5 separate regions of the Homo sapiens genome follow, and all the other regions are reported to be linked to region 3. Evidence: microRNA targets listed by miRTarBase, many of them from high-throughput screens and not tested one by one. Region 3 holds a microRNA gene; each other region holds the end of a gene's coding sequence.
The links. The annotated mature microRNA hsa-miR-4457 reads UCACAAGGUAUUGACUGGCGUA and lies in region 3 at 1,366-1,387, shown strand. An mRNA with a match to its seed (bases 2 to 7 or 8) in the 3' UTR can be bound and repressed. Matches are read on the target gene's strand: a 7mer-m8 pairs with bases 2 to 8, a 7mer-A1 pairs with bases 2 to 7 and ends in A, and an 8mer does both.

Region 1: miRTarBase lists GINM1 as a target of hsa-miR-4457. The part of its 3' UTR that is shown has no 7-base or 8-base seed match.
Region 2: miRTarBase lists TOGARAM2 as a target of hsa-miR-4457. The part of its 3' UTR that is shown has no 7-base or 8-base seed match.
Region 4: the mRNA of DAZAP1 is a reported target of hsa-miR-4457. Seed matches in the 3' UTR shown: 7mer-A1 at 289-295.
Region 5: the mRNA of TMEM81 is a reported target of hsa-miR-4457. The part of its 3' UTR that is shown has no 7-base or 8-base seed match.

What each region holds. Positions count from the first base shown.
Region 1 is chr6:149,590,314-149,594,464 of GRCh38, reverse strand. GINM1 (glycosylated integral membrane protein 1) reads right to left here. Exons shown (of 8, transcript NM_138785.5): 8 at 2,717-3,738. The coding sequence ends at 3,627. It also overlaps the pseudogene RPS18P9. Among named protein-coding and RNA genes, the nearest start is that of GINM1, 26 kb to the right of the region's middle.
Region 2 is chr2:29,051,625-29,055,775 of GRCh38, reverse strand. TOGARAM2 (TOG array regulator of axonemal microtubules 2) reads right to left here. Exons shown (of 20, transcript NM_199280.4): 20 at 3,546-4,020. The coding sequence ends at 3,683. Among named protein-coding and RNA genes, the nearest start is that of PCARE, 21 kb to the left of the region's middle. RefSeq lists an enhancer at 2,311-2,821.
Region 3 is chr5:1,306,550-1,310,700 of GRCh38, reverse strand. MIR4457 (microRNA 4457) reads left to right here and starts at 1,324; the gene lies at 1,324-1,391.
Region 4 is chr19:1,434,671-1,438,670 of GRCh38, forward strand. DAZAP1 (DAZ associated protein 1) reads left to right here. Exons shown (of 12, transcript NM_018959.4): 12 at 67-1,014. The coding sequence ends at 242. RPS15 (ribosomal protein S15) reads left to right here and starts at 3,726. Exons shown (of 4, transcript NM_001018.5): 1 at 3,726-3,758. The coding sequence starts at 3,756. RefSeq lists enhancers at 1-94, 3,471-4,000, 3,750-3,969.
Region 5 is chr1:205,080,017-205,084,167 of GRCh38, forward strand. It overlaps TMEM81 (transmembrane protein 81), which reads right to left. Exons shown (of 1, transcript NM_203376.2): 1 at 3,113-4,151. The coding sequence ends at 3,537. Among named protein-coding and RNA genes, the nearest start is that of TMEM81, 2.4 kb to the right of the region's middle.

The DNA.
Region 1 (4,151 bases), not on the chromosome of region 3:
CAGAAGTGACGCAGCCCTCTACGGGCCCGAATCTTTTTCAGTCGCTCCAGGTCTTCACAGAGCTTGTTGTCCAGACCATTGGCTAGGACCTGGCTATATTTTCCATCCTTTACATCCTTCTGTCTGTTCAAGAACCAGGCTGGCATCTTGTACTAGTGTGGATTCTGCATAATGGTGATCACATGTTCCACCTCATCCTCAGTGAGTTCTCCCGCCCTCTTGGTGAGGTCAGTGTCTGCTTTCCTCAACACCACATGAGCATATCTTCGGCCCACACCCTTAACGGCAGTGATGGCAAAGGCCATTTTCCGCCACCCATCAATGTTGGTGTTGACTACTCGGCAAAATATGCTGGGACTTTTCAGGGATCACTAGAGACATGGCGGCAGCACAAGTGGCGGCATGTAGGCCTCCTGTGGAAGAGAGCTATATGCACTTCTAACTTGGCATCTTCTCTCCTACTGTTTGCTGCTGTTACTCCTTCTAGGAAGAAAAAAATATTGGCTCTAGCTCCAGTTAACCTTACCCATTGCCTCTGGGTGCCAGCGGATAACTGAAAATCCCTGAACATTTTTACACAGTAGCTAATTAAAGCATGAGCCAAGCCCAGTATGTCTTCCTTCCCACCTGGTGTTATGGTAGCTTCCCTTCACCTCCTGGGAGAGTTTTAAAGACACATTTTACTTTGCATTTTAAAAAAATAAAATAAAATTCTTACTTGACTTTTATTTTGCCTATGTAAGAGGCTGCACTATAGGCAAATAGGCATTTCTAAACCTGTGCTGCTCATAGTACTCTAATCACTCATTAACTCATGCATACCAAACATAGCTAAAGTAAAGTATTAATGGTATGAGTTAATAAGTGAAATAAAAGTTAATGGTATAAAATTTTAGATAAGATTTCCATGTGTGACTACTTAGAAGAAAATAACTTACCATGTTATCCCAACCATAGAAAACAGAGCCTCAGGAGATTGCGGACCTTGCTGTGGTCCCAAGTCTTACTGAGAAAGACAGAAGCCTGGGTAGGGATCTTCTGACTGCAGAGCCTACACTCTCCAATAGACCATGTAGCCTCCTAAAGTTTTTTCTTCACTAGAATCTGTAAGCTTATGGTTAATAGATAAAATAAGACCATGTCATCATTTGGAGTTAGAACTGGTGCTTTCTAATGACTTAGGGAATGAGAAAGGGTGTAAAGAACAAGTGTTACTGGTTGGTAACTCAAGGATCAAATTGTAAGTTGCAGATTATTTTTTTCAGCAGTATGGAGAGAGTATTGCATAATAGAGCTCCATGCAATGTAATTAATTTAAAGTCTGGCAAAGTGAAACATCACTCCTTCATTCTACTTGTCATCCTCTCCACCCCCATCACACACATACCTATTTGGCCTAAATATAAAGTGGTCTCAAAAAAACCAACCATGGCCGGGCATGGTGGCTCACGCCTGTAATTCCAGCATTTTGGGAGGTCTAGGTGGGTGGATTACCTGAGGTCAGGAGTTTGAGACCAGCCTGCCCAACACAGTGAAACCCCATCTCTACTAAAAATACAAAAATTAGCCGGGCATGGTGGTGGGAGTCTGTAATCCCAGCTACTCAGGAGGCTGAGGCAGAATTGCTTGAACTTGGGAGGTGGAGGTTGCAGTGAGCTAAGATCACACCATTGTACTCCAGCCTAGGCAACACGAGTGAAACTCCATCTCAAAAAAACAAACAAACAAAAAACAACCATTACTTTCTTGGATAGTGTTTTCAAAATGATGGGTTGCAGTATATATATATATATATATTTTTTTTTTTTTTTTTGAGACAGAGCCTTGCTCTGTCGCCCAGGCTGGAGTGCAGTGGTGTGATCTCGGCTCACTGCAAGCTCTGTCTCCCGGGTTCACACCAATTCTCCTGCCTCAGCCTCCCGAGTAGCTGGGCCTACAGGTGCCCCCCACCACGCCCGGCTAATTTTTTGTATTTTTTTTTTTTTTAGTAGAGACGAGGTTTCACCGTGTTGGCCAGGATGGTCTCGATCTCCTGACCTCGTGATCTGCCCACCTCGGCCTCCCAAAGTGCTGGGATTACAGGCATGAGCCACTGTGCCCGGCCAGTAAAAATATTTTTTAATGAAACAACAGAAAGTATCACATAGAGGGCCAGGCGCGGTGGCTCATGCCTGTAATCCCAGCACTTTGGGAGGCCAAGGCAGGCAGATCACAAGGTCAGGAGATCGAGACCATCCTGGCTAACATGGTGAAACCCCATCTCTACTAAAAATACAAAAAATTAGCCGGGCATAGTAGCGGGCGCCTGTAGTCCCAGCTACTCGGGAGGCTGAGGCAGGAGAATGGCATGAACTCGGGAGACGGAGCTTGCAGTGAGCCGAGATTGCGCCACTGCACTCCAGCCTAGGCGACAGAGCCAGACTCCATCTCAAAAAAGTATCACATAGAGATGAGTTATATGTACTCGTTCACATTGTAAAATATTAATATGTCAATATGAGTGATGGTTAAAAAAGGTAATAAAACACTTTTAGGGTAAACAGCACTATATCTAGAACCACAAGACCAAGGGCACAGTCTAATTCATGACATCAATGGACTCATTCAATTTGAGCCATGGTTTCAGCCAGTGTAAATGAAAGTATACCTACTCCTGCATCTCAGCCATTCTTACCTGGGCAAAGGTTTTATATCAGTGTAACCAAAACAGCTATACTTTTTTCCTCAAAAAAAAAAAAAAAAAGTTTATTTTAGAGTGAGAACATGTCATACTACTTTTAAATCTTGGAGCATTCAAGGTAAGTAGTCTTGGTACAGGATACAATCAAATCATGATACACTTCAGTGATTTTATACTGAGTCACATACTTAATATAAAGGCACACTGTACTGAATAAAAAAATAAGTGTTAAGTTCTTGACCTTTTAAATTAGAATTTTATAAAGTGCTTTTCATAAAGTCTTATATATTATAGTAATTAAGTGGATATAATTTCCTTAACAAAGGCACCTTGAAAAGTTATTGGCACATGAGATTTTGTCTGGTCTTTTTTTTTTCTTTTGATAATTTCAAAGTCTCTTCACATGTGTTCTCTTCCACTTTAAGTTTTCCTTAACAATTCATCATATGAATAGCCAGCCCTTTTAGAGAATAAGGTCAACTTTTTTTTTTTTGAAACAGAGTCTCGCTCTGTCACCCAGGCTGGAGTGCAGTGGCGTGATCTTGGCTCACTGCAGCCTCCGCCTCCCGGGTTCAAGCAATTCTCCTGCCTCAGCCTCCCAAGTAGCTGGGACTACAGGCGTGCACCGCCACACCCAGCTAATTTTTTTATTTTTTTTAGTAGAGACAGGGTTTCACCATGTTGGCAGGATGGTCTTGATCTGACCTCGTGATCCGCCCGCATTGGCCTCCCAAAGTCCTGGGATTACAGGCATGAGCCACTGCACCCGGCCGAGAATAAGGTAAACTTTAACTTGGCACTGTAAAGGTCAATTTTCAGGCAGTCTTAGAGTTTAGCAATTTCTCTAGTGTATAAACTGATTCTTAACGATTTAAAGAAAATTATATTCAAGTGGCAAATTTGGAGGCAACAGGCTACTTCGGAGTCCATGATATGAGATGGCGTTTTAAATACATGTTTTATCTTCAAGGTTTTCAGCTCTTTTCTCTGGACCATCTGGATATAAGTTGATAGCTGTCACAGGTATGACGTCCACTTTATCCAACTGAAGAATTCCTCTGAAATAGAAAGTGATTAATTACTATCAAAATTAAATGTTTCCTCTGCCTGTAGTTTGATAGTGAGAAAAGGCTACTTCAAGGTTATAATATACACCTAAGGTTAGGTGCTTTTGCTACATTCTATTTAAAAATTCATAGTGGTTGTACAAACTGAGCCCAAAGTCACTTTAACCAAACTGGCTGAGAGAATAGAAAGGCATCGAGGAAGTTCATTATTTCCTATTTTAGGGAAGAATAGGGTAAGTATAGATCTCCAAGGCAGAGTTAGGTTCCTAGATACACCCAGGCTGAGCAAAAAGCCTAAGCCTAAGCCTCTCTCTAAATAATACTCACCACCACAACACAACCTTAGGTCTTTAGATAGTGTTGCTCTTTTTGTTACTTAAAATCCCTGACCAGAGAGTACGTCT
Region 2 (4,151 bases), not on the chromosome of region 3:
GTAAAGCTTGTTTAATCCTAAACAGGTCCCACTAAGAATTCCTTCATTATCTCATCATGCTTCAAGGCCCAGCAAAGGCCTAGGCAAACTCTTGGTGGGCTTTTGTTACATTCCAGCCTTTGTATAAGGCCACCAGCTCTCTCAGCTTTTAATGTTTAACTTAACCACTCAGTCAGTATTGAAACAGTTGTTATGGATGCCTGCATTAGTGATACCTGGCCTGCCACAATGGGACCTATAGGAAAAGTTTCCTAAAATCTCAAAAAAATTCTCCTTGATGTAAAAGGGAATCCTGGCAGTTACAGCTCTCAGACAAGTCTTCTGTCTATGAGTCTCACTCTGAACTGAGTACACTCATTTTTCTAAGAAAACGAGTTTTTAAAATTATTTCTCTTCTCTTTTCCCCATTTCCCCTTGTTCCCCACTTCCTACTTAGCCCTTTAGAAATGCAACTATACGGCACTACTCACAATAGCAAAGACTTGGAACCAACCCAAATGTCCAACAATGATAGACTGGATTAAGAAAATGTGGCACATATACACCATGGAATATTATGCAGCCATACAAAATGATGAGTTCATGTCCTTTGTAGGGACATGGATGAAGCGGGAAACCATCATTCTCAGCAAACTATCGCAAGGACAAAAAACCAAACACCGCATGTTCTCACTCATAGGTGGGAATTGAGCAATGAGAACACTTGGACGCAGGAAGGGGAACATCACACACCGGGGCCTGTTGTGGGGTGGGGGAGGGGGGAGGGATAGCATTAGGAGATATACCTAATGTAAATGACGAGTTAAGGGTGCAGCACACCAACATGGCACATGTATACATATGTAACAAACCTGCACGTTGTGCACATGTACCCTAGAACTTAAAGTATAATAAATAAATAAACAAATAAACATATATATAAAAGAAATGCAACTATAACCTTTTACCTCCCCTTTACCAGACACTCCCTCCAGGGCAGGCTCATCTAACTGTGTGCTTAGAAGCTCTAGAGCAGAACTTGCACCCACCAGGAAACTGCCTGGAGACACAACAGTCAATTAATAACCCAAAATATGCCCACTATGAAACTCCCTCCCACCCGGAGAGCTTCAGCCACTTTACAACCTAGTTCTGCCCACGAAGATGCCAACTTGACCACCCGTTACATAAGTCATCAAAGCAAGTATGTGGACTCCCCCACCTGCCCGCTTCCTCTCCTGCATGCCATTCGTGCCAGCACCCCCCCCCCCGCCCCTTTAAAAGTGCCCACTTTCTGCTCCAAAAACGACACAGTACCCTTCAAGGCAGCTTCTTCCCCTAAACTAGCTTTGGAATAAAAAGTCAGTTTCTTTATACCAGGCCTCCCTTTTGTTCACTGGAGTCTGCAAGCAGTGAGTGACTGCACCTGCATTTTTGTTACATGGAGAGAGAGATTGAGAGAAAGAGAATCTTCCATCATTAGAGGCTGTATTCCCACCCCCAAGAGCATCTCATGTAAGTGGAGTTCCTGGCCACACACAGAACCAAGCAAAGTATGTGTGGGCTTAGCTCCAGCCCCAGCTCTTAGGAAAATCTTCATGTCCCATGACAGGCCGTCCCATTAGATTCCCACAGGTATTCCCAACAGGCCCAGGGCCAGGTTACCAACATGCTGTCTTCCCTTCATTTTAAAAGTAATGAGGTAAGGAAGTCTTTGGAGATGGAAATTTCTCAAGGTACACCAGAGCCACCCAGTGCCTCCCAGCAGCGTCACACCACAGGTGTGGTTAATAAAACCTGAAATAATGAGGGAAAAGAGAACAGTGCAAAGATGTATTCTGCACTTTTCCACTGTTTTCAGCTGTTTTCAATGCCTCCGCCCCTGAGAGTGGGTGGAGGCCCATGGGATGGGAAGCTTCCTGTGTGAGAACACACATGGAAGGCAGGAAGACAGGACAGTACTGCTAAGCTTCATTTCTGCCGTCAAAATCCTTGCCAGACTCTACGTCCCTGGCCTCCTAGGGATCTAAAAAACCCTGAAATGTTCTGATACATTCTAGGATAAAAGCAGAAAATGCAAGTCTCCTCACCAAACCAAAAACATTTGCTCAGATGACAGGCAAATGCAATTCATTAAATTGTTCAACACTTAAAACATTTACTGTCAGCCTCTTGGGCATTTTTGGATGGCTGCCTGTCTAGCAGGCCTTTAACCTGGTTCAATCAGAATCAACAAAGAGCTAGATGGTCGCAGGGAAGCCCCTGCTGGGGTCACAATCAGGTGAGAAGCAGCTCACTGGGCTAGAATTACCCAAAGTCACTCTTAAGCCGCCTATGACAAGCCCAAGGCCCGGGATGACTCGCAGGCCCAACCTCACCCCAGGGCGTAAGGAGGGGCCGGACTAACTACACCTGCCACAGAGGCAAGATGGGAAAGTGGCTTCCTCAGCCTGGTGGGGTATGGAAATACATAAGTGAGTAGATTCGGGGCTTTCCAGAGCCAGACTCCCCAGGAGAGGCTCAGAACAGGGATGTGGAATGGATGTTAGGCCTGGGGGGCAGATGACAGTGGAAAGAGGTTCCACTGGGGAAGGGCAGGGGAGGGGGGTGTCTGCCAGAAAACTTGCTGGCATGAGGCTGGGCCCTCAGGGCCTCGGTCGTCTGGATCTGCCCCAGCACGTGGCTGCAGGCTGGGCTCCCCTGCAAGAGCTGGGATGCTGCCTCTTCAGCCTTTGCCTTACCAGGCCTGCCTTGCCTGTGCATTTGAGGTCATGGCCTTAGCTCTAACTCTTTCTGGTCACACAGTTGTTAACCTGCCACTGGCCCCAGCCAAGGCAGAGCCACTCCTACCTAAAGTGTCCAGAGCCTGAGCCCCAGACTTCCCTCTCCACTGCCGGGACTTCATTTCACTGGCTGTTCCCCCAGGGGCCAACACCTTCCCTGCTTCCACAAGTCCTGGCCCGTGCTGTGCCCACTCGCCCCTCCAGCCTTGTGATGTGGCCCACAATTGCAGCCTGTGCAGTTTCAGAGACTCGGCAGCATCTGCACACTGGTAGCACTTTACGCTCCACATGCATCTCCATTTAGGGTGTTTCAATGGCAAAGCATTGTCTAGTCCTCTTCAGAACTAGCCAGAACTCCAACTTCTAGAGAAGGCTTTTAGTGATGCAAATCTCAAATTCCCCTTGTCTTTTGATAAGCTGGGCCGATCAGAAGGTTCCCACAGGACCAACAGACACGTGCTGCAGCTTTTGCAGGGCAGAAGCACGATGTCCCTGAACACGTTTGTTACACTCACCTCCAATCAGGCCCATAACAAATGGACTGGATTCGATGACCAACTCAGGCTGCGGGTTTCAGGAGGGCTTGCCCAGCAGCTCACAGATGGGCAACTATCGTCTCGAGCGGGCTGCAGCTTGCAGGGCTGTGCTACCCTTTTTCTTCCTAACTCTTTGTCTCAACATTGTCTGCAACTGGTTTTGCTGCTGTCACATTTCATTTCGTTCATCACAAACCTAGTTACTGGAAAATTCTCTGTGATTAAAAAAGTACAAGATAATAAAACCTTAGAAAAATAAGTAATTCTTTTATTTCTACTTCAAAATATACCATGTACATCTGGAACTCTAAGGGGGAAAGTAACCAGGAGAATAGTCCATCAAAAAAATAAGATAAATAATAATTGCCCATTTCAGATCCATCTTTAATCCAGCTGAAAAGGGTATGAGCTGCCAGTTGTCTTGCTGTCAGGGGCCACCCCTCTGTCAGTGGCCTTGCGGCTGCCTCCCAAGGACTCTGAGTCTAAGAGTTCCTGGAGCGTCTTGAGGACGTGCTTTGGCTGGCTGGCGGCAAAGTCCAGCAGGCGGGAGCCCATGTGCTCCTGGAGGCTCCTGGACAGCCGGCACACCACCCCGCGGATGTTCCCGCTGGGTCCAGGCAGGGTGCCATTCCTGGTGGCGGTGTTCAGGAAGTGCCAGAGGATGGGAAGGACATGCCGCTCTACAGCTTGAGGCTTCCGGGGGTAAACTGAGGCCACCAGCACTGTCAGGCAGAAAAGGAGAGTCACTTGAGCCAGGCACTCTCTCCCTCTCCCACTTCCCTCTCTTGGGACACCAACTTTGTCCCCCAAAGGGCTGGCAGCCCAGCAGGCACAGCAACTAAGGATCATGACA
Region 3 (4,151 bases):
TTTCTGCTCAGATCCATTACTTGTTTCTTTGTACATTCATTGGTCTATTTTCATATTTCATTTCATACCTTTAGAGCTGGTTAATGAGCTCATTAATCTTTAGCCTTGTTCTAGGAACTTTCACTTCTGGACAAAATGAAGCAACAGGAACGGGATTCGTCCTCCCATTTGACATGACAACACAACCAACAATAGACTAGACAAAATGTATGAAATCACAGCCCTAAAGATCCTGAAGCTCAGCCAAGGAAAGAAGGTGAACCTCAAAAGGCAGGAGCCAAATGCGGCAAGCCTACAATCGCTTACCTGGGAAGACTGTCCGGGCAATGGTGCCCACCTGAGGCTGGACCTGGTCGTCTCCCTGGGGCGAGGAGATGGAGCTGGAGACCAGGGAGGCCAAGGTGGCTGAGGTCTGAGAAAGCACTGGAGGAGTGAACTGTGTGGAAACTGGGCTTCAGGATATGTGGCTGATGGCTGGTCGGCATGTGTGTCAGAAAAAGGACTGGATTACAGGAAAAGGTCCAAATAAGAACAACCCAATAGGATTGGAAGGAATGGTGTTCCCACAGCAATAGTGCCGGTTCTAATTAGCCAGAGCAGAAAAGCTTCTAATTCACCAGGTTTTTTTGTTGTTATTTGTTTTGTTTTGTTTTTGTTTTTGTTCGTTTGTTTTTGAGACAAGGTCTTACTCTATTGCTAAGGCTGGAGTGCAGTGGCGCGATCTTGACTCACTGCAATGTCTTCCTCCCGGGTTCAAGCAATTCTCCTGCCTCAACCTCCTGAGTAGCTGGGAGTACAGGTGCATGCTACCATGCCTGGCTAATTTTTGTATTTTTAGTAGAGACAGGGTTTCACCATGTTGACCAGGCTGGTCTCAAACTCTTGGCCTCAAGTGATCCACCCATCTCAGCCTCCCAAAGTGCTGGGATTACAGGCATGAGCCACCGCCCCCAGCCCTAATTCACCAGGTATTGACTGGAGTACTCAGTAGAGCCTGGCCTCAGAGACAGGGTCTCACTGTCACCAAGGCTGGAGTACAGGGGTGCGACCTTGGCTTACCGCAGCTATGACCTTCCCAGGCACAGGTGATCCTCTCACCTCAGCCTCCCAAGTAGCTGGGACCACAGGCACATGCCACCCCATGTGGCTAATTTTTATATTTTTTGTAGAGACAGAGTTGCACCATGTTGCCCAGGCTGGTCTCAAACTCCTGGGCTCAAGTGATCCTGATCCACCTACCTCAGCCTCCCAAAGTGATGGGACTACAGGCGTGAGCCACCACGCCCAGCCCAAACGTCAATTATCTTGGCATGATGACTCTTTGGAGTACTCCAGTCAATACCGTGTGAGTTAGAAAAGCTCAATTCACAAGGTATTGACTGGCGTATTCAGAAGAGTCTGGCCTCAGTAGCGGAGAAAAAACCTTCCTCGTGGATCAACCCCTGCCCTGGTCCCACTTACTGGAGCCCAAGCACAGGATTCAGAAGGATCGAGTTTTTCCAAGGAATGTAACTGTTTCCCAGGAAAAAACTAAACAATATTTTTAGGAACACAAAAATATACATCACCAAACAAGATGAAACGCACACTGCGTGCATCCATATTACCAGGCATGCGAGGAAGCAAGGAAACAATTCCTGCAATGGGAAGAAAACCACCCAGAGCTTACCGGGGAGCGACAGACATGACAGAATTAGTAGAAAAGGACATTAAACCCGTTGATCACCTTTATTCCGCGTGTTCAAGTCGCTAGAGGAAAGATTAAGATGTTAAGGCAGAGACATGGAAGATAGCAAAAGATCCTTGTCAAACATCTACAGACAAAAAGTGTAATGTCTGAGAAGAAAAATACATTGGATTAGATCAATGGAAGATGAGGCATTGCCGAAGAAAAGATTAATGGATTTGAACACACAGCAACAGAAACTACATGAAGTGAAACACAGGAAAAAAAAGATAAAGAAACGAAAAGAAAAGGGCATCAGTGAGCTTCAGCAGAAGTTCCATCGGCCTTACATATGTGTAAGCAGAGGCCCTGTAGGAGCAGAGGCAGGGGGAAAATACTTTAAGAAATAATGTCTAAAAGTTTTTCAAATATGAGGAAAAACATAAAACCACAGATCCAAGAAGCTCAACAAAACAAAGCACAAGAAACAGGAAGAAATTAAAAGTTATATCACAGTCAAATTGCTGAAAACCAGCAACAAAGAGAATATCTTAAGAGTATCAGAGGAAAAGAGATTAATGACAGGCCAAGAAACAACGAAAACAATACAGATTTCTTGTAGGAAACACAAGACAAAAGACATTTTTTAAAACCAAAAGGAAAAAAAATGCTACATTAAAATGTTTTTTACCCACTGAAAGTATATTTCAAAACATATTTTAGGCCAGGCTTGGTGGCTCACACCTGTAATCCCAGCACTTTGGGAGGCCAAGGTGGGTGGATCGCTTAAGGTCAGGAGTTCGAGACCAGCCTGGCCAATATAGCGAAACCCCATCTGTACTAAAAACACAAAAATTAGCTGGGTGTGGTGACACATGCCTGTAATCCCAGGTACTCAGGAGGCTAAGGCAGGAGAATTGCTTGAACTGGGAGGCAGAGGTGGTGAGCCAAGATTGCACCAGTGCACTCCAGCCTTGGTGACAGAGTGAAACTCCATCTCAAAAACAAACAAACAAAATACATATACATAAATATATATGCACATATATATACATATATAAATATATATACACATATATAAATCTATATACATATATACATATATACACATATATAAATCTATATACATATATATACATATATAATATATTTACATATATAAATATATACATATATAAATATACATATATAAATACATATATAAATATACATATATAAATATATACATATATAAATATACATATATAAATACATATATAAATATACATATATAAATATATACATATATAAATATACATATATAAATATATACATATATAAATATACATATATACATATATAAATATACATATACATATATAAATATATATACACATATATAAATATACATATATAAATATACATATATAAATATATACATATATAAATATACATATATAAATATATATACATATATAAATATATAAATATACAAGTATATACAAATATATACATATATAAACATATATACGTATATACATGTATATACGTATATACGTATATACATGTATATACGTACGTATATACATGTATATACGTATATACGTATATACATGTATATACGTATATACGTATATACATGTATATACGTATATACGTATATATATAAATGTATATACGTATATACGTATATATATAAATGTATATACGTATATACATATATATATAAATATATAAAAAAACTTTTGGCTGGGCACCTTTCCAAATCTCATGGCACATATAAGTCTCATGGTAACCTCAAATAAAAAAACATATAACAGATACACCAAAAATAAAAACCAATAAATTAAATCATGCCACCAGAAGAAATTACCTTCACTAAAAGGAACACAGGAAGGAAAGAAAGAAGGAAGAGAAGACCATGAAACAACCAGAAAACAAACAACAAAACAGCAGGAGTAATTCCTGACTTATCAATAATAATGCTGGGTGTAAATGGACTAAACTCTCCAATCAAAAGACATAGAGTGGCTGAATGGACGAAAAAAACAAGACTCAATAATCTGTTGCCTACAAGAATATACTTCACCTATAAAGGGACACATAGACTGAAAATAAAAGGAAGGAAAAATATTCTATGCAAATGGAAACCAAAAAAAGAACAGAACTAGCTACACTTATATCAGACAAAATAGATTTCAAGACAAAAAGTACAAAAAGAGACAAAGTAATTATATAATAATAAAGCAAAAAGATATAACAATTGTGAATTTATATGCGCCCAACACTGGGACACCCAGATATATACAGCAAATATTATTAGAACTAAGGAGAGAGAGAGATCCCCATACAATAATAGCTGGAGACTTCACCCCGCTTTTAGCATTGGACAGATCATCCAGACAGAAAATCAACCAAAAAATTGGACTTAATCTATAATATAGAACAAATGTACCTAATTGATGTTTACAAGACATTTCATCCAGTAGTTGCAGAATATGCATTT
Region 4 (4,000 bases), not on the chromosome of region 3:
GCCTCGCTCGACGGCAGTGCCAACCGCCCAGGGACCGCCCCGAGCTCACAGGACTTTCTCCCCCAGCAGGTTACGGGCAGGACTTGAGTGGCTTCGGACAGGGCTTCTCAGACCCCAGCCAGCAGCCTCCTTCCTACGGGGGTCCCTCCGTGCCAGGGTCGGGGGGCCCCCCCGCCGGCGGCAGCGGCTTTGGACGAGGGCAGAACCACAACGTGCAAGGGTTCCACCCCTACCGACGCTAGCCCGCGGCGCCGCGACGTCTGCACGGCCCAGACCCAGGATTCCAAACTTGTGAACTCGTGACAATCACAAACTTGGCGGCAAAGTGGCGACTCAACCTTGGGGGGGGGGGCGGGGGGAGGGCGCGAGGCTTTTGGAGCGGCTGTGGGTGTCGTCTGGACTGAGGTTTTTAAATATTTCTTTCTCTAACCCATCAGCACAATAAAAAAAAGTCACTGGTTCAACAACAGGGTTTAAAAAAAATGTCTTCAGCTTTAATTCAAAACTTCAGGTTTCTTTTTCTTCCTTTTTTTTGGAAATTATTTTCCTGAGCCTTTTGTTTTACGGTATATTGTAAACTTTTATGTTAAAGAAAAAATATACATTTACAAATTGTGAGATTTTTAAGAGAAATTTTCTACGATGTATACTGGCTTATTTTTTAATTTAAAACGGGGTTTCCGTCGGCACTGGTGGAGGGGGTGCGCTGTTAGTCCCCTCGCTCCTGGCTTTGGGGGTTGGGACTTGGTGGTCCAGAAACTCTGGGAGCTTCTAGAAGAAATCTACTGAGTGTATTTCTGTTTTTTGTTTAATTCCTTGCTTTTGTCGACTGACCTGCTTGGTAGTGTCTGAGGTGAACTGTGGGGGTTGCGCACAGCCAGCCGCGTGGATCCCACGCAGCGCTGAACCGAACCGAGTAGGAAGCCTTTCTCCCCAGGCACGTGGCTTCAGGGCGTTTCCCATTGACCAGTTTGACCCTGGTTTGAATAAAGAGAAGTGCGTTTGGATTAGAAACCACTTTGTGTCCGTTTTTTCCCTCCTTGGTCTTGGCCTGTGCCTACCCTTCCAGTGCCTAGGAAAGGTCTGAAACGCGACGGAGGCGCCCTCGCCCTCCCCTTGGCTCTTGGTGGTCTCAGCAACCCCGAGGGCTTCAGGGCAGAGGCTGAGTGGCGAGCTGGGCCCATCCCTCAGTGGGTCTTGGGATGCTGTGACTTTGAGGATGTGGCCACCACCAGTTTTCTCGGGGAATGTGGGCTCCAGGCTTTTCCCATCTCAAGACCTTTAATCATATCTTTTGCCATGGAAGGTGACATATCCCCAGGTTCTGGGGATTAGGACAGGGGCATCTTTGGAAAGGGATACTCTGTCACTGTGGCAGGGAAGGCGAGACTTAAAAAGGGCCGGGCGCGGTGGCTCACGACTGTAATCCCAGCACTTTGGGAGGCCGAGGCGGGCGGATCACCTGAGGTCGGGAGTTCGAGACCAGCCTGACCAACATGGAGAAACCCCGTCTCTACTAAAAATACAAAAATTAACCGGGTGTGGTGGTGCATGCCTGTAATCCCAGCTACTTGGGAGGCTGAGGCAGAAGAATCGCTTGAACCTGGGAGGCGGAGCTTGCAGTGAGCCGAGATTGCGCCATTGCACTCCAGCCTGGGCAACAAGAGCGAAACTCCGTCTCAAAAAACAAAACAAGAAAAAAAAAGGACCATGAAGTCCCAAACTGGAAGCCTACAGCGTGCCAGGCGTGAGACTGTTCAGGCGACAGCCAGAACCACCCCCCCCCGCCCCAGTTCATATTTTGGGGACAGGGAAGGTTTGACTTAGTTTGGAGAGAACCAAGAGAAGGGGTACCCCCAACATCCCTGTGCAGTGCAGTTTCCTCACTGAGACAGTACCCCTCAACGCCTCAGCCCAGGAAGCCAGCTCCATTCCCTGCCGTCAGAGCCTTCTCCCATGTCCTCAGGAGCTGCTGCCCCAGCTCCCAGGAGGGCCAGGCGGGGGCGGCTGTCTATCCACACCACAGGTCATCATGGTGTTGAGTGTCAGCCCCTCCCGTTACATTAGCTCCCCCAGCCAAAGAGCAGCACTCACAAAATCAGCTTTCCAGCCAGGACACTCTGCTGCAGGAAAATGGGTAACATGGACGGGCCCGACACATAGGTCCTGTGCTCCTCGGGACGGAGACTCAGCCCTCCCTGAGTACAGTGTAATTGGCTTCCCTTGGGACTGTGGGGACGGCTGGGGAGAGCTCAGCTCCCTGGACAGTGCCACAGCTAAGCTCGGGTTCCCAGAGGTTTTGTGCTTTTTTTTTTTCTTTTTCTTTTTTTTTTTTTTTTTTTTTTTTGAGAAGGAGTCTCTGTCGCCCAGGCTGGAGTGCAGTGGTGCGATCTCAGCTCACTGCAACCTCCGCCTCCCGGGTTCAAGCGGTTCTCCTGCCTCAGCCTCCCAAGGAGCTGGGATTACAGGCACCCACCACCACGCCTGGCTAATTTTTTGTATTTTTAGTAGAGTTAGGGTTGGTCAGCTTGGTCTTGAACTCTTGACCTCAGGTGATCCGCCCGCCTCGGCCTCCCAAAGTGCTGGAATTACAAGCATAAGCCACCACGCCCAGCCAGGTGCCACATCCATAGTTAATAGTCACCTTCAACTTTATACTTAATTCCAGTAAGATACAGAAACATCACTCCTAGGCCAGGCGCGGTGGCTCACGCCTGTAATCCCAGCACTTTGGGAGGCCAAAGCGGGTGGATCACCTGAGGTCAGGAGTTCGAGACCAACATGGCCTGGCCAACATGGAGAAACCGTGTCTTTACTAAAAATACAAAATTAGCCGGGCACGGTAACAGGTGCCTGTAATCCCAGCTACTTGGGAGGCTGAGGCAGGAGAATCGCTTGAACCCAGGAGGCAGAGGTTGCAGTGAGCCGAGATCACACCACTGCACTCCAGCCAGGGCAACAAGAGTGAAACTCTGTCTCAAAAAAAAAAAAAAGTCACTCCTACATAGTTCTAGTTACTCCTTCTCTTTGAGCTATCATTATTCACATTACATTTACATATCTTAACAAACCCAGTGATATTCCTAACTTTATTTTTGAGGCAGGGTCTTGCTCTGTCGCCCAGGCTGGAGTGCCGTTGGCGCGATCACGGCTCACTGCAGCCTTGACCTCCTGGGCTGAAGGCTCAGCCTCCCGAGTAGCTGGGAATTTTTTGTACTTTTTATTCTTTTATGTCCGTGTGTACACAAATTTTTGTATTTTTTTGTAGAGAGGCAGTCTCACTGTGTTGTCCTTACTAACTTTATATACAAAATTTTATCTGTTAAAGCCGGAATGGTTCTTTTCAGCGAGGCCCTGTCCCTGCTCCAGTATCTGTAATGAATTCTCGTGTTCCTCCCACAGTGGGACCTGAACCGCCAAACCGCACCTACGAGCAAACGGTAGGCGCTCCATAAATACTTGTTGATGTGGGTGCCATCGTGTAGATGACGGAGCACGAACCCGAGGCTCAGACAGGGGCGGCGACTTGTCCAAAGTCCCACTCCGTGGAGGAAGCGGCTCTGCAGACCTCAGGCGGCGGCTGCTCTAATCCCTGCAGCCTGTGTTTTGCCCTCCAGACGGCAGAGGGCGCGTGTTCGCCGCCGGGAAAGCGGAAGCGCGTGTGCGCGCACGGCCGAGGGGGCGGGACATGCCGGCAGTCTCGCGATAACTGCGCAGGCGCGGACCAAAGCGATCTCTTCTGAGGATCCGGCAAGATGGTGAGTGTTGCGATTTGGCGCGTCTCTGCCGGGCCTATCCGGCTCCATCCAACCTCTGACCGTCTCGCGGGGGCCGCAGTTCGTCCCCGCGGCTACGGCGGCTTGCTCCCGACCCTGCAGGCGGCTGGATGTTGGGGCGAGGGGCGGACTTGGTGGGTGTCGGGACGACGCGGGGCTGGGAAGGCCTGTCCGGGCCTTCATGTCCGGGTCCTCGTAACCCGGAGCCGCGAGTGATCCCCGGG
Region 5 (4,151 bases), not on the chromosome of region 3:
TCCAAATGTGAATCTGAGATACCGTGTTGTACTAGAAGCAAGAAAATGCTCAATGTCAAATAAAACCACAGCAAAAGGGCAAAAGAGCTTGCCTGAGGGGACTCCTACTGGCCAAAATTGGGGACAATTTGAACATCAAGATAATGATCATTTGTACACCAAACCCCCATGACATGCAATTTACCTATGCAACAATCCTGCACATGTACCCCTAAACCTAAAAAGTTAAAAAAAAGATAAAATGATAATGGATTATATATAGCTCACTGAATAAGAAGAATCTATTGAGACCTCAAAAATAAAGAGGGTAAAAAGAGTAAGCTCTTCTTTACAGAGAAATGCAGGCTAATATAGGTAAGATGAACATAAAGAATTGCCAGTTTGCAGTCCCCAACATGTAATGTTCAACAAGGCAAAAACAATGGATGCCAAAATATGTGAAGAGTTTTTGGAGAGCCATATAATCATAAAGTATTACCCCACAGACTATGAATTACAAAGGGGAAAATACACACACACACACACACACACACACACACACACACATTGGTGGTGAGATCTGGCCATCCACCACCTTAACCAAATGATCAAGCTTATTATCAATAGTGGGTCAACCTTGGCTGGGCGCGGTGGCTCACGCTTGTAATCCCAACATTTTGACAGGCCGAGGTGGGCGGATCACCTGAGGTCAAGAGTTTGAGACCAGCCTGGCCAACATGGTGAAACCCCATCTATAGGCGTGGTGGCACATGCCTATAGTCCCAGCTACTCAGGAGGCTGAGGCATCAGAATCACTTGAACCCGGGAGGCAGAGGTTACAGTGAGCCGAGATTGCACCACTGCACTCTAGTCTGGATGATACAGTAAGACTCCATCTCAAAAAACAAAAACATAAACAAAAACATGAGCCTTGTAATGTGGTGCAGTTAAGTACATATCTACATAGGGCTCTTGTCAAAAATGTTTAAGATTCATTCCTCATGAATCTACTCATGAGGAAATGGCAAATACAAATTATGGAATCTTATCTAAGACAACTGGAGTAAATTATTCAACGAAATCAATGTCATGAAAGACAAAGGAATGCAGGAGGTCTGTTGTAAAAGAAGATACTTAAGAGAAACATAACACATGAACTTCTATTTGATCCTGGATCAAAAATGAAATTAAAAAGCTGTTAAGATTTTGGATATTGAGAAGTGAATACAGGCTGAGTATCCCTTATCCAAAATGTTTGGGACCAGACATGTTCCAGATTTCAGACTTTTTCAGATTTTGGCATCTTTGCATTATACTTATAGGTTAAGCATCCCAAATCCAAGAAATCCGAAATCTAAGCTCTTCCAATAAGCATTTCCTTTGAGCACCATGTTGGTACTCAAAAAGTTTCAAGTTTTGGAGCATTACAGATTTCAGGTTTTCATACTTGGGATGCTCAACTTGTATAAACTATATAAGATTAAGAAATTGTTAAATTTTGGCCAGGTCCAGTGGTTCACACCTGTAATCCCAGCACTTTGGGAGGCCGAGGCAGGTGGATCATCTGAGGTCAGGAGTTTGACCAGGCTGGCCAACATGGCGAAACCCCGTCTCTACTAAAAATACAAAAAAATTAGCCAGGCATGGTGGCAGGCACCTGTAATCCCAGCTACTCAGGAGGCTGAGGCAGGAAAATCACTTGAACCTAGGAGGCAGAGGTTACAGTGAGCTGAGATCACACCATTGCACTCCAGCCTGGGCTACAAGAACAAAACTCCGTCTCAAAAAAAAAAAAGAAAAGAAAGAAATTGTTAATTTTTTGTTGTTGTTTTTGAGACAGAGTCTTGCACTGTCGCCCAGGCTGGAGTGCAGTGGCGCAATCTCAGCTCACTGCAAGCTCCGCCTCCTGGGTTCACACTATTCTCCTGCCTCAGCCTCCCGAGTAGCTGGGACTACAGGCGCCCGCTACCACACCAGGCTGATTTTTGGTACTTTCAGTAGAGACGGGGTTTCACCGTGTTAGCCGGGATGGTCTCGATCTCCTGACTTCGTGATCTGCCCGCCTCGTCCTCCCAAAGTGCTGGGATTACAGGCGTGAGCCACCGCGCCTGGCCAGAAATTGTTAATTTTCTTAGTGTGATAAAGATATTGTGGTTACAGAGAACATCCTTATTAGGAGATGCATACATGGTTTAAGAGTTAAGAGTTGCAATGTCTGTGACTAGCTTTCAAATGGTTTAACAAAATCAATCTATATTGAGAAAGATAATTGTGACAAAATGTTAATTCCTGGTGAATTTTGGTAAAGGTTCTATGCATGGTCACCAAACATTTCTTTCAGCTTTTCTATGGGTTTGAAATTTTTACAAGTTAAAAGTAAAATAAATAATAGAGATCCTTTGACCATAATTTAAACTGAATTAGCATTGTCAGGATTAGAGCTCAAGAACCTTTATTTTTCACAAGGTCATCCAGATGATTCTAACACACATCTAGAGAATCGCTGGTCTTTGGTTTCTGCTACCTCCTGTAGTCAGAGAAAAGTGAGAGGAAGAAATGTTGTAATTCTCTCAGTAGAATTAGCTCAGCTGGTGGCCAAGAGTCTTTCCCTGATGGTTCCACAAGCCAATTATCTCAGACACGGTCCGAATGGCCTCGGAGTCTTAAGACTGGATTTCCTATGGAGGAATCAAAGTACTAATCCTCCTTTGGGGGCCTTGGCTGCTGTAAGAAACCAATACTTGACCCTCCCAGGAATAGAAGCTTCAGGGCACTGAAAGAGCTAAAAGGACTGGAGTGGAGGCAAGCCAAGGTGCTGTCTGAATGGTAAGAGGAAACCTACCAGGTGAAGGATCTAGTGTTTTGCCAAGAAATTCAATTTAATACCAAACAGGGGATTTACCTGGGCAGAACAGGCAATTTGTTAATATTTAGTGACTGTTACACACCTGAGTTGGATGTCATTACTAACAACCCCTGCCATAGGCTTATGCACTGCACCCCCTGCCCCCAAAAGCAGACAATTGGTTTAATGTCTATTCTAAGAAACCTGAGGAAAATGAAGCCAGACTGATTATGGGACAATTTAAATAAATACAAGAAACTGAAGAGCAGAAAAAGGTCTCCATACAGCTACTGTGAATTACTTTTATTGAAAAAAAATGTTCACTAAAAAGGCTGAATACATCCCTCTACATGAATACACAGCTCAGAAGAGGGGAAATGGAGGTGGGGAGGCATCCAAGTCATAAAGGGTAGAAAATGAATGCAAGCTTCTTAGAACTCTTCCCAGGAACACAGGCAATGCTTGCAGTTTCCTGGGTACCCAATGGGCAGGGAAGATCAGGAAGAGATCCATGGGACATAAGGAAGTTAGGTTACTGCGCATAGCTCCCAGGAGATTGTCCCCTCCATTTCTCCCACTCATTCTTTTGGCTGTGGGAGTGTTCCCTCTAAGCTGATCCACTACCAGCAGCTGGAACACTCCCCTAAAAAGCTAGCTTGGCTTCCTGGGCAGCCAGTTCTTCAGGAGCAAGGCTGTTAAGTTCTTGAAGCTGTCACTGCTGCAGGCCCCCCCTTAGCGCACAGAGGACAATCCTCACCAACACGCCACCAACCACTCCAATGGCAATTCCTATTCCCAAGGCTGACGCCACCTTCTTTTTCCACTTTGGGTGGTGAGGCTTGGAGTAGCTGTCCAGATTAACTTCCAATCCCTCATCTATTAACTTCTGATCCTCAGTAAGTGACTGATGGAAATTCAGATTCACCAAGTTAGGAGGAAGGACCCTCAACCCAAAATAGAGCCTCTTGACGAGTCTCAAGTTTTTTACCAGCTGCACATCACAGCGATATGTCCCAGAGTCATACTCCTGAGCATATTTAAACTTCACAAAGTGGGAGTTGGCTTGAAAGGGTTTGAAGACCTCATCGTCAGTGGAGATGACACCTCGAGCAAGTCTCCAGGTGAACCGGAAAGCTTCCTGTCCAAACTCCAAGATGTCTGAACTCAGACAGCTAAGCTCAAATTCCTTGCCAATGAGAATGGTGAAATGGAGCATCCCACAGATCCAGTTGGTCAGACATTCTAAGCGCCGAGTCTGACATTTCCTTCTCACTCCATCAGGGCCCACCTCACAGACGGTCTCCTCCTTATAGCCAAGGCCACAGGT